Linked DNA regions of Homo sapiens. The protein of the gene in region 1 purifies or fractionates together with the protein of each later gene. This does not show direct contact. Each region holds a gene or a part of one and is shown on either strand. Other genes may lie near its edges. The genes, in order: UCN3, HERC1 and HKDC1.

The links.
Region 2: the proteins of UCN3 (region 1) and HERC1 purify together in Homo sapiens (affinity purification with mass spectrometry; one large-scale study listed by BioGRID and IntAct). This does not show direct contact.
Region 3: the proteins of UCN3 (region 1) and HKDC1 purify together in Homo sapiens (affinity purification with mass spectrometry; one large-scale study listed by BioGRID and IntAct). This does not show direct contact.

What each region holds. Positions count from the first base shown.
Region 1 is NC_000010.11:5,367,890-5,371,543, forward strand, and holds part of UCN3 (urocortin-3 preproprotein), read left to right. Parts: intron 1-3,654. UniProt on the Homo sapiens protein: Suppresses food intake, delays gastric emptying and decreases heat-induced edema. Might represent an endogenous ligand for maintaining homeostasis after stress.
Region 2 is NC_000015.10:63,638,443-63,642,096, reverse strand, and holds part of HERC1 (probable E3 ubiquitin-protein ligase HERC1), read left to right. Parts: intron 1-453; coding exon 454-627; intron 628-1,651; coding exon 1,652-1,945; intron 1,946-3,320; coding exon 3,321-3,386; intron 3,387-3,560; coding exon 3,561-3,654. UniProt on the Homo sapiens protein: Involved in membrane trafficking via some guanine nucleotide exchange factor (GEF) activity and its ability to bind clathrin. Acts as a GEF for Arf and Rab, by exchanging bound GDP for free GTP.
Region 3 is NC_000010.11:69,218,678-69,222,431, forward strand, and holds the start of HKDC1 (hexokinase HKDC1), read left to right. Parts: upstream 1-1,654; 5' UTR 1,655-1,758; coding exon 1,759-1,821; intron 1,822-3,754. UniProt on the Homo sapiens protein: Catalyzes the phosphorylation of hexose to hexose 6-phosphate, although at very low level compared to other hexokinases. Has low glucose phosphorylating activity compared to other hexokinases. Involved in glucose homeostasis and hepatic lipid accumulation.

The DNA.
Region 1 (3,654 bases):
GAAGCAAAATAAACAAATGGGGTGGTGGGGCAGTGGGGAGAGAGCCATGTGGAACCCACAGAGGGAGGCCTGAGGGTAGCTCCAGGGTTGCATCTCAGCACCCTCTAATTTTTTTAATTTATTTATTTTTTTGAGACAGAGTCTCACTCTTTCACCCAGGATGGAGTGCAGTAGCATGATCTTGGCTCACTGCAACCTCCACCTCCCAGGCTCAAGCAATTCTCCTGCCTCAGCCTTCTGGGTAGCTGGGATTACAGGCGTGTGCCACCACGCCTGGCTAATTTTTGTATTTTTAGTAGAGACAGGGTTTCACTATGTTGGCCAGGCTGGTCTCAAACTCCTGACCTCAGGTGATCCACCTGCCTCGGCCCCCCAAAGTGCTGGGATTACAGGTGTGAGCCACCCAGTCCGGCCAGCACCCTCTATTTTAGCTTACACCCACCCAGAGTCCAGGCGCCTTTCATTTGGTGAAAATCAAGAACTCATTTCATTCTCCCAGTGCTTTTCGTAGAGGGACCTCTGGCTTTCAGAAGTAGAAAAAGAAAGAAATCAGAACAAAGATTCTCGAACTCAATCCCCTGCTCTCACAGAGGAAAATAGTGAGGTCCTGGGCGGTTAGGCATGAGCTAGTGAGTGGGAGGGACAGGACTGAGTCTGGTAGTGAAAGGAAAAAAGGGATGAAGGAAGAAAGGGACAGAGAGACAAAGTTTCTCCACCACTTTCCCCCCAGTATTAACCTTTCCAAATTGGTTTTTGTTTTTTTAAACCCTTTCAGGGTTAGCAAGCCATTCGAAATAATTTCCAAGCTTTAAGATGCCTTCAAGGTATAAGGCAGCTAAAACCATGCTTCATACTCTATTTATGAAAAACAACTCATTAGGTCCTCTGTAAATGAGAAAGCTGAAGGTCTGCCTATTGAATGCAACATTTAAGGAAAGAAAAGCCCATTTTCCACAGGGACGGTTAGTGCACCCCTGGAACTCCGGGGTACAGCTCTAAGGAGTCCAGAGTCGGGTCAGAGCACGCAGAGCAGCGGTTCTCAGAGTGTGGCCCTCAGACCTCAGCATCAGCATCACGTGGGACTGTGCTAGAAATGCATGTTCTCAGGAGCATCCAGACCCAGTGACTCAGAAACTCTTGGGACGGGGCCCCGCAGGCTGTGTTTGAACCGCGCCTTCACATGAGTCCAAAGCACCTGAAAGTTGAGAACCGCTTACTTAGACTAAGGGCAAAAGGAGTCTGCACAGGTCAGGGTGGAGAGGGTAGCATGGAGCCAAAAGCTACAAGCCAGAGATACGATACAACAAGGACATTGCTCTGCAGGATCAAATGCTTGCTCAGATTTCCTGGTCTCTCTGTACATATGTGTATTGTGTATACACAACTGTGTGTGTAAAATGCACTTCTGAAAAGGTTGTGTGCAGACCAGATCTTCTCCTAAGAAGACCTGGAGATTATTCAGGTGTGGGTCAGCCTTGATTGAGCATCTGCTCAGACAAGGAGCTTTCATACACACATTGACGTTTCTCATCGAATCCTTCACTTAACCTTCATGAGGTGGTTATTGCCATCCCATTTATCAGAGAAGGAAATTGAAATTCACAGAGGTTATCGGCCCAAACCCTCAGGCAAATAAGGAAATAAGGACGAAGAAGGAATTCGAGCCTGTGTCTAACTCCAAAGCCTGTGTTGTTCTCACTTCGCCAGGCAACATGCCCAGATCTGGCTAGTTCATAGGTTTGGACTATTTAAAGCGAGGATCATGTGTTTTCTCATAAATTATGAAAAATATTAGTGCATAAAATAAGCTCTCAAAATTTTTGTAATGCAAAATAAATGGAACAAACAAAGCAAAACCTGATTTCTTAGACAAAAAAATTAAAGGAAAGAAAGGCAACAGCTGCAATGTGGAGAACCAAGGGAAGGAACAGGCTTTGACAGGAAATGTGCTGGGTAAACATTTATCCACGTGGGTGTGTGTGTATATGTGTGTGTATATGTGTGTGTGTATATGTGTGTGTGTATATGTGTGTGTATGTGTGTGTGTGTATGTGTGTGTATATGTGTGTGTATATGCGTGTGTATATGCGTGTGTATATGTGTGTATGTGTGTGTGTATGTGTGTGTATATGTGTGTGTATATGCGTGTGTATATGCGTGTGTATGTGTGTGTATATGTGTGTATATGCGTGTGTATATGCGTGTGTATATGCGTGTGTATATGTGTGTGTATGTGTGTGTATGTGTGTGTATGCGTGTGTATATGTGTGTGTATATGTGTGTGTATATGCGTGTGTATATGCGTGTGTATATGCGTGTGTATGTGTGTGTATGTGCGTGTGTGTATGCGTGTGTGTATGCGTGTGTATATGCGTGTGTATATGCGTGTGTATATGCGTGTGTGTATGCGTGTGTATATGCGTGTATGTGTGTGTATATGCGTGTGTATATGCGTGTGTATATGTGTGTGTATATGCGTGTGTATATGCGTGTATATGCGTGTGTATATGTGTGTGTATATGTGTGTGTGTATATGCGTGTGTATATGCGTGTGTATGTGTGTGTGTATATGTGTGTATATGCGTGTGTATATGTGTGTATGTGTGTGTATATGCGTGTGTATATGTGTGTGTATGTGTGTGTGTATATGCGTGTATATGTGTGTATATGTGTGTGTATATGCGTGTATATGTGTGTATATGTGTGTGTGTATGCGTGTGTATATGCGTGTATATGCGTGTGTATGTGTGTGTATATGTGTGTGTATGTGTGTGTATGTGTGTGTATGTGTGTGTGTATGTGTGTATATGTGTGTGTATATGATGTGTGTGTATATGCGTGTGTATATGTGTGTGTATATGATGTGTGTGTATATGCGTGTGTATATGCGTGTGTGTGTGTATGCGTGTGTATATGTGTGTGTGCGTGTGTGTGCGCGCGTGTGTGTGCGCGTGTGTGTGCGCGTGTGTGTGCGTGTGTATGTGTGTGTATATGCGTGTGTATATGCGTGTGTATATGCGTGTGTATATGCGTGTGTATATGTGTGTTCATGTGTATGTGTGTAAGGTGTGTGTGTGTGTATGTATGTACATGTGAGGTATGTATGTGTGTGCATATGTGTGCATATATATACGTGTGTGCATGTGTCTATATGTATGTGTGTGTATGTATGTACGTGTGAGGTGTGTATGTGTGTGCATGTGTATGGTTGTGTGTATGCATGTACATGTGAGGTATGTATGTGTGTGCATATGTGTGCATGTATATGTGTGTGCATGTGTATGTATGTGCATATGTGTACGTGTGAGGTGTGTATGTGTGCATATGTGTGCATGTATAAATATGCATGTCTATATGTATGTGTGAGGTGTGTGTGCGTGTATGTGCATGTATATATGTGTGTGCATGTGTCTATATGTATGTGTATGTACGTGTAAGGTGTGTATATGCACATGTGTGCATGTATATATGTGTGTATCTGTATGTGGGTGCATGTGTATGTGTATGTGTACCTGTTTGTATGTGTGCTTGTCTATGTTCCTGTGCGTCCTGTGTGTGTGTCTGTTTCCAGGGTAAGTGAAGCAGCGGGGACTTACAGGATCCTCCTTTAGAAAGAGACCCAGGCTCCCTTTGCTAAGGGTCAGCGCTGGTTCT
Region 2 (3,654 bases), on another chromosome or scaffold:
CCTTCATGAAAGGTTCTACTGCAAGTAAAATGTAGAATCAGACCCTAGGCAGTAGTGGCCTGTGTAGAATAAACCACAGAGCCAGAGTTAAAGCAGTGCTACCTCTTTTGCAGCTATCCTTGTAGTCATGTCAGACATGACTTTTGAAATATAGTAGATGCCTTATTCTGCAGGTTCTGAAGAAATAGTTAATTATTGACATTTTTTCCTTAAAAAGTACCAGCTAATCAGAGGTAGTTCACAAATTTTATTATTTCTCATTATTTTTTACTTAGACAAAATTTAGGATATTTTGAAGTTCCATAGGCATTAAAAGCATAGCCTTTTTGGATATAAAATATCCAAAAAGCAAAGATGTCCCAGTTACTAGAAGGAATTTCGCAGATTAAATGGTGATAGCATTATTTTTTATTTAAACAAATTTATTATGTGGCATGATTTATTTTCAACCAGGATGTTTTGGTCGTGAATTGTACAGCAGAATGGGCAGCTGCCAATCATGTTTTGGCAACCTGTAGGACAGCATTGAAACAGCAGGGTGTTCTGGGATTGAACATGGCTCCCTGCATGAGAGCATTTTTGGAGCGGCTCCCCATGATGCTTCAGGAGCAGTATGCCTATGAAAAGGTAACTCATTACACTCACTCCTAGAGATACACAGATACCTGGTGCTTTGGAATGTGATTATAGCCTTGAACTTATCCCTTAAAAGCATGAGGTCTGAGGATAATAAGTGGGGCTATTTGGGCAGAATCAAATGAAGGTAAGTCATGCCTAAAAGAGTTGTTCAGCAACCCTAAGCCTATTCTTGCTTTATTTTCACCAGAGTAAAATAAAGAAACAAACACCAAGTTTGTATTACTGCTTTTCAGATTATTTATTCACTCCAAAGCTTCTTAAAATACCTATGCAGCAGAATATCTTCCCTTTTCTGACCCACACATATATCTATTTTTATATGGCTTGGCCATTCCAAAGTTGAGGGATAGGGATGGATGCGGGTATCAGACTGAATATCGTCTCCACTTATTAGATAAATCTTTGTGGAAAATTTAGTGGAAGAGCTATGTTGAATTGAGTAGGGTCATTAAATACTGGAATGAGGAATTGCAGCGTTTGAACTTGTCCAGACAGTGATCCTAAAGTAGCCTGTCTTCCAGCTTTTTGCTTTTCCTTTGATGGCTACCAGGATTCTCTTATAAAGGAGGAAAGTGAGAAGAGCAGATCTCTGTGGTTAAATAGTTACCTGCTTTTTTTTCCAATCAAGAAAAACCATGATGAAAATGTACTATATGCAGTGTGATAGCTTAGATTGGATCCTGGAGCAGAAAAGGAGTATTAATGGGAAAACTGAGGAAAACCAAATAAAGTTCTGTGGTTTAGTTAGTATTGTACCAATGTTAGTTTGTTAGTTTTGATAAATGTGCCAGGGTTGTATAAGATGTTAACATTGGATAAAGTTGGGCGAAGGGTATACAGAAATCCTCGGTACTATCTGTACAACTCACTCTAAATCTAAAATTATTTCCTAGCAAAAAGCTTAAACAGTAAACTTGAAAAATATGATTCCAGACTTTCAGACTACGGTAGGTTAATTTAGAATATTTGGCACAAACTCTTTGACATATTATATCCTTGTATTTTGTTTTAGCCTCATGTGGTTTGTGGTGACCAACTTGTTCATAGCCCCTATATGCAATGCTTGGCTTCCCTTGCTGTGGGACTTCATCTGGATCAGCTGTTGTGTAACCCTCCAGTGCCACCACACCACCAGAACTGTCTCCCTGACCCTGCATCCTGGAATCCAAATGAATGGGCCTGGTTAGAATGTTTCTCAACCACTATAAAAGCTGCCGAAGCCCTGACCAATGGAGCCCAGTTTCCAGAATCTTTTACCGTTCCAGATCTAGAACCTGTTCCAGAGGATGAACTTGTATTTCTAATGGTAAATGTACTGTGAGCTGCTATTATTTGCAGCTGAGATTTTATCATGGGTATTGGGCATGTAGCAGACCCCTAATAAGTCTTTGCTGGTATGCATGGCTAGAAGGATACCCTTAAGAGAAATGGAAAATATTTTTCTTTCAGATAGTCACTTTCAATCTGATGGCAGGCCTCCATAGTGACAGGAATTGATAATGTAAGCACTGTTGAACTCTTGTAAACCTGCCACCTCTCAATGACATAGTCCCATATTTTCTCATTTTCTTTTGTCCATAGGTACTTTGTTAGTGCTTTAGTTGTATATATCTTAGCATCTTTTCCTGGTCATCTTGTGGGTTATATGCCACATATAGATTCTAATTTATTTGGCATTTCAATCATGTCTTTAATTAGCATCAAATAAAATATAGAAGAGCATTCTAATTGTCATTTCATTCTGTTTGTATTTGAGAGTGTCTACTCTAGAAACTGTGACATAGATAAAATACCTGTTTAGACTACAGGACAGCACATGATCTAACAACCTCTTTGTATACTTAAGATTTATGTATACAAACATTTGGATAAACATTGATACAATATGAAACAGACAAATATAAATTAAGTAAAATTATGTAACTGTAGCTATGCATCACTTAATGATGGGGATATGTTCTGAGAAATGCATTGTTAGGCAATCTTGACGCTGGGAATATCATAGAGTGTATAGTACTTACACAAACCTAGATGATACAGCCTACTTGCAACAAGACTATACGGTATAGTCTGATTACTCCTAGGCTACAAACCTGTACAGAATATGACTGTATTCAATGCTCTAGGCATTTGTAACAGTGATAAGTATTTGTGTATGTAAACATAGAAGATATAATAAAAATAAGGTTTTATAATCTTAAGAGACCATCTTCACACATGCAGTTTGTTGTTGACTGAAATGTCACGTGGCACAAAAGTATACAATATTTTAATCAGAAAATGTCCTTCTAAGCCCATTTGGCCCAACTCTGTAATTTTGTAGATGAGGAAGCTGAAGCCCAGAAAGATGAAGTAATTTGCCCACAGCTACACAAAGAGTTTACAGGGGTGTGGGGTCCTCCACATGACCTTGTACCTGTGGGTGTTCAGAAAACACATGGCTAGCTTTGAATCACCAATGCCATAGTGATAGTGATAGTGAAAGTGTTTATAATAAAGGGAAATACTGACAGTGCATAAAATCAAGTTTGACATAATTATAAAACTGCTCTTAATTTATCATAATATTACCATATTCTTTTTTGGAAATAAGACTTAATGATTAGAAGAGGACTTTGTGGTTAAGAGCAGGTGCATCTTGCCTAAGCAGAATTGATCATTATGTACCCCCTGTTTTTCAGGATAACAGTAAATGGATTAACGGCATGGATGAACAAATTATGTCTTGGGCAACTTCCAGACCTGAGGTCAGTAAAGATGAAGATAACTGTATGATGGTTCTCAGTCAATGTTTTGATTCTAAATGCTTGTGTGTTTGTGCCCTGGTGTCTCCCATACAGGCTGGCACACACTTGGTACGTAGTACATGGCTGTTTGAGTGAATGGATGACTCTAATTTTGAGATGATTGTGGTTTTCTAGGACTGGCACCTGGGAGGTAAATGTGATGTCTACTTATGGGGTGCTGGTAGGCATGGACAGCTGGCAGAAGCTGGAAGAAATGTAATGGTACCTG
Region 3 (3,754 bases), about 64 Mb from region 1:
AAAGCAGGGCTGGAGAGCCAATGCCATGTATTATAGCTGGGCCCTGGAATCAAACTTCCAGGATTGACCCCTTGCTGTCCTGTTTATGGCTTTGTGATCACGTAACCTTTCTGGGCCTCAATTTTTTCATCTATAAAATAAGAGTGGGCCGGGAGCAGTGGCTCATGCCTGTAATTCCAACACTTTGGGAGGCTGAGGTGGGTAAATCGCTTGAGCCCAGGAATTCAAGACCAGCCAGGGCAACATGGCAAAACCCTATCTCTACAAAAATACAAAAATTAGCTGGGCATGGTGCCACGTGCCTGTAGCCCCAGCTACCCTGGGGATTGAGATGGGAGGATCACCTGAGCCCAGAAGGCTGATGTTGCAGCGAGTCATGATTCCACGACTGCATTCCAGCCTGGGGGATGAATGAGACCCTGTCTAAAAAATAATAATAACAAGAGTAATAAAAACAAAATGGGATTGGTAAATGCTCCATCCATGTTAGCCGCTGTTGTTAACGCTGTTGTTATTGGTTTCATTAGCCAGCCAGTGACTGTGGGAAGAGTGCAAGGTTGATTGTACCCATGTATTGGGTGCTTTCTGGGTCCTTCTCATGTCAAGTATGATGAGTGAGAAGTGAGTGAATAAAACATCTCAGTGGCCTGAGACATTTCTCTTTTTTTTCTTTTTTTGAGATGGAGTTTTGCTCTTGTCACCCAGGCTGGAGTGCAATGGCGCGATCTCGGCTCACTGCAACCTCTGCCTCCCAGGTTCAAGTGATTCTCCTGCCTCAGCCTCCCAAGTAGCTGGGATTACAGGCACCTGCCACCACTCCTGGCTAAGTTTTTTGTATTTTTAGTAGAGATGGGGTTTCACCATGTTGGCCAGGCTGGTCTCGAACTCCTGACCTCATGATCTGCCTGCCTCGGCCTCCCCAAGTGCTGCGATTGTTACAGGCGTGAGTCACTGCACCCGGCTGGACTGAGACATTTCTTATCTGTGACTTCCTTCTCTCCAGCAGTGATTCCCAGTGAGCACTGGTGACTTCAGTTCACTCTTTCTCAGGAATATTTTTTCCTGGGTCACTACCTGTGAACTAAAGATTTTCTGGCTTAACACTGTGAATAGGTAAACATTTATTGATCATTTTCTGTTAACCATGGGCTATTAGTTAAGAGATCTGATCTGTCACAAATGGAAGAATCTGCCCCAACATTCTTGAAATCCCATTGACCAGGACAATGTTTAGTTTTAGTTAGTTCAGTGCTTCTGAGGAGCAGGGGGTCACAGAGTTATGCCACTGGCATAAAAAACTAAAGAGAAAAGCCTGGGACTGGAAATTTGCAGAGCAGCTCCACCGGTTGAAAGTTGGCTTTGTTTAGTGCCCAACTTCGCAGAAGATTTTCCTCGGCTGAGTGGGCTTGGCAGAGCCCCGGCTTGAGAGGGTTGCTTAGCAATGAGATTTGGTGGCACCCAATTCTCAAGTAGTCAAGCAACCCATCAATACCCTGCTTCCCCCTCCACTAAACCTCAGCTACCATCCAGAGCCTCCTATTAGACAATCAAGTGTGTGCCAGAGGGAGGGACCAAAGGGGTGGGGTGGGGGGGAGTTTAATCATTGAACCAAGCAGGCTGGAGGTATTTAGTCCGCAACACCTCGCTCCCCAGGAGGTCTGCCAGCCTGGACTGGAAGCGTGCAACACTCCAGAGTCGTAGGAGTGAACACTGCACAGGAATCTCTGCCCATCTCAGGAGAAACCAAACTTGGGGAAAATGTTTGCGGTCCACTTGATGGCATTTTACTTCAGCAAGCTGAAGGAGGACCAGATCAAGAAGGTAAGGAGGACCCACGAAGCTGAGAGATGCCCAGCTCCTTCTTCACGGACAAAACTGATTCCCTTAAAAAAAAAATCAGAAGGGAGTGAAGAGAGCTTATTAGAAAAGATACTGGGAGCATATGACCAGTAAAAGACTCACTGAGGGAAGAGGGAGTAATTCTCCCACACTCCTGGGCATTGCATTACTGTCCTGAACCTTACACTTCACTCGGAACTTCCTGGCAGGTATTGGATGCGGAAGCGGGTGAGGAGGGTGTTTGGAAAGCTTGAAGAGGATTGTGTTTGCTGTAAGGGATGTTTGCTCGGAAAGGCCACAAAGGCGAGGAGAATCATTTTCAAAGAAGTTTTAAGAACTGTTGGAGCAGAAGGCTGGGCGCAGTGGCTCACGCCTGTAATCCTAGCACTTTAGGAGGCCGAGGTGGGCGGATTACCTGAGGTCAGGAGTTCGAGACCAGCCTGGCCAACATGGTGAAACCCCGTCTCAACTAAAAATACAAAAATTAGCTGGGTGTGGTGGCGGGCACCTGTAATCCCATCTACTCGGGAGGCTGAGGCAGGAGAATCGCTTGAACCCAGGTGGTGGAGGTTGCAGTGAGCCGAGATCGCGCCATTGCACTCCAGCCTAGGGGACAAGAGTGAGACTTCATCTAAAAAAAAAGAACTGTTGGGGCAGATCTGTTTGTTCATGTATTTGAAAGCATATAAATGTGGGCAGCAAGAAGGTGTGAGTTGCAATAGACAGTAATTGAAATATCTATTATTGGCACCTGCTATTTGCCAATGGTACACTATTCATGGTGTGCATTATTTTGTCACTTTGCTCAGGGAACTTGTCTACAAAATTCATTCCAAAGTGGGCTGGTTAAAGGTTGCCAAGGGTCAACAGGAGGGAACCAGGGTTCTTTCCAGGCAGCTAAAATGAGCCCAGTCTGCTACTCTGGCCACACCGGCTGGCTGTCACGGCCCTGGGCAAAAAGCATCTCTCAAAGTGCAGATGACAGAAGTCCTCCTAGCAGGAGGACTTAGCCAAGGTCACCAAGTATTTAGGATGGAATGAGGATTAAATCCAAGTTGGCTGACTCTTCCTTCAATGCTTTCTGCTGTGCCATGACTCCCTCCTGCTTTACAAAATGAATAAGGAGGCCAGGCACCGTGGCTCACGGCTGTAATCTGCATACACTGGGAGGCTGAGATGAGCAGATCTCATCTCAAACTTGAGGTCAGGAGTTTGAGACCAGCCTGGGCAACATGGAGCAACCCCATCTCTACAAAACATGTAAAAATTAGCCGGTCATGGTGGTGTGTGCCTACAGTCCCAACTACTCGGGAGGCTGCGGTGGCAGGATGGCTTGAGCCCGGGAGACTGCGCTACTGCACTCCAGCCTGGGTGACAGAGTGAGACCCTGTCTGAAAAAAAAAGGAAAGAAAAGAAAAAAAAAGGCCAAGGATGGTGGCTCATACCTATAATCCCAGCACTTTGGGAGGCCAAGGTGGGTGGATCACCTGAGGTCAGGAGGTTGAGACCACCCTGGCCAACATGGTGAAACCCCGTCTCTACTAAAAATTTAAAAATTAGCTGGGCGTGGTGGAGTGCGCCTGTAATCCCAACTACTCAGAAGGCTGAGGCAGGAGAATCCCTTGAACCCGGGCAGCAGAGGTTACAGTGAGCCGAGATCATGCCATTGTACTCCAGCCTGGGCAACAGAATGAGACTCCGTCTCAAAACAAAACAAAGAAAGAGAGAGAGGAAGTGTGGCCCCTTACAGCCCTCAGGTACTTGGTGGGATAAACTCCCACTAAATTCTATTCATTTAGAGAGTTGAGTTAGAGGTTGTAGCAAATTTAAAAACATTATAAAGCAATCACTTGTTGATTAGATTCAGAGCCCTCTACTGGCTACTTAAGGAGGCGCTGCCTAGGAATCCACTTTC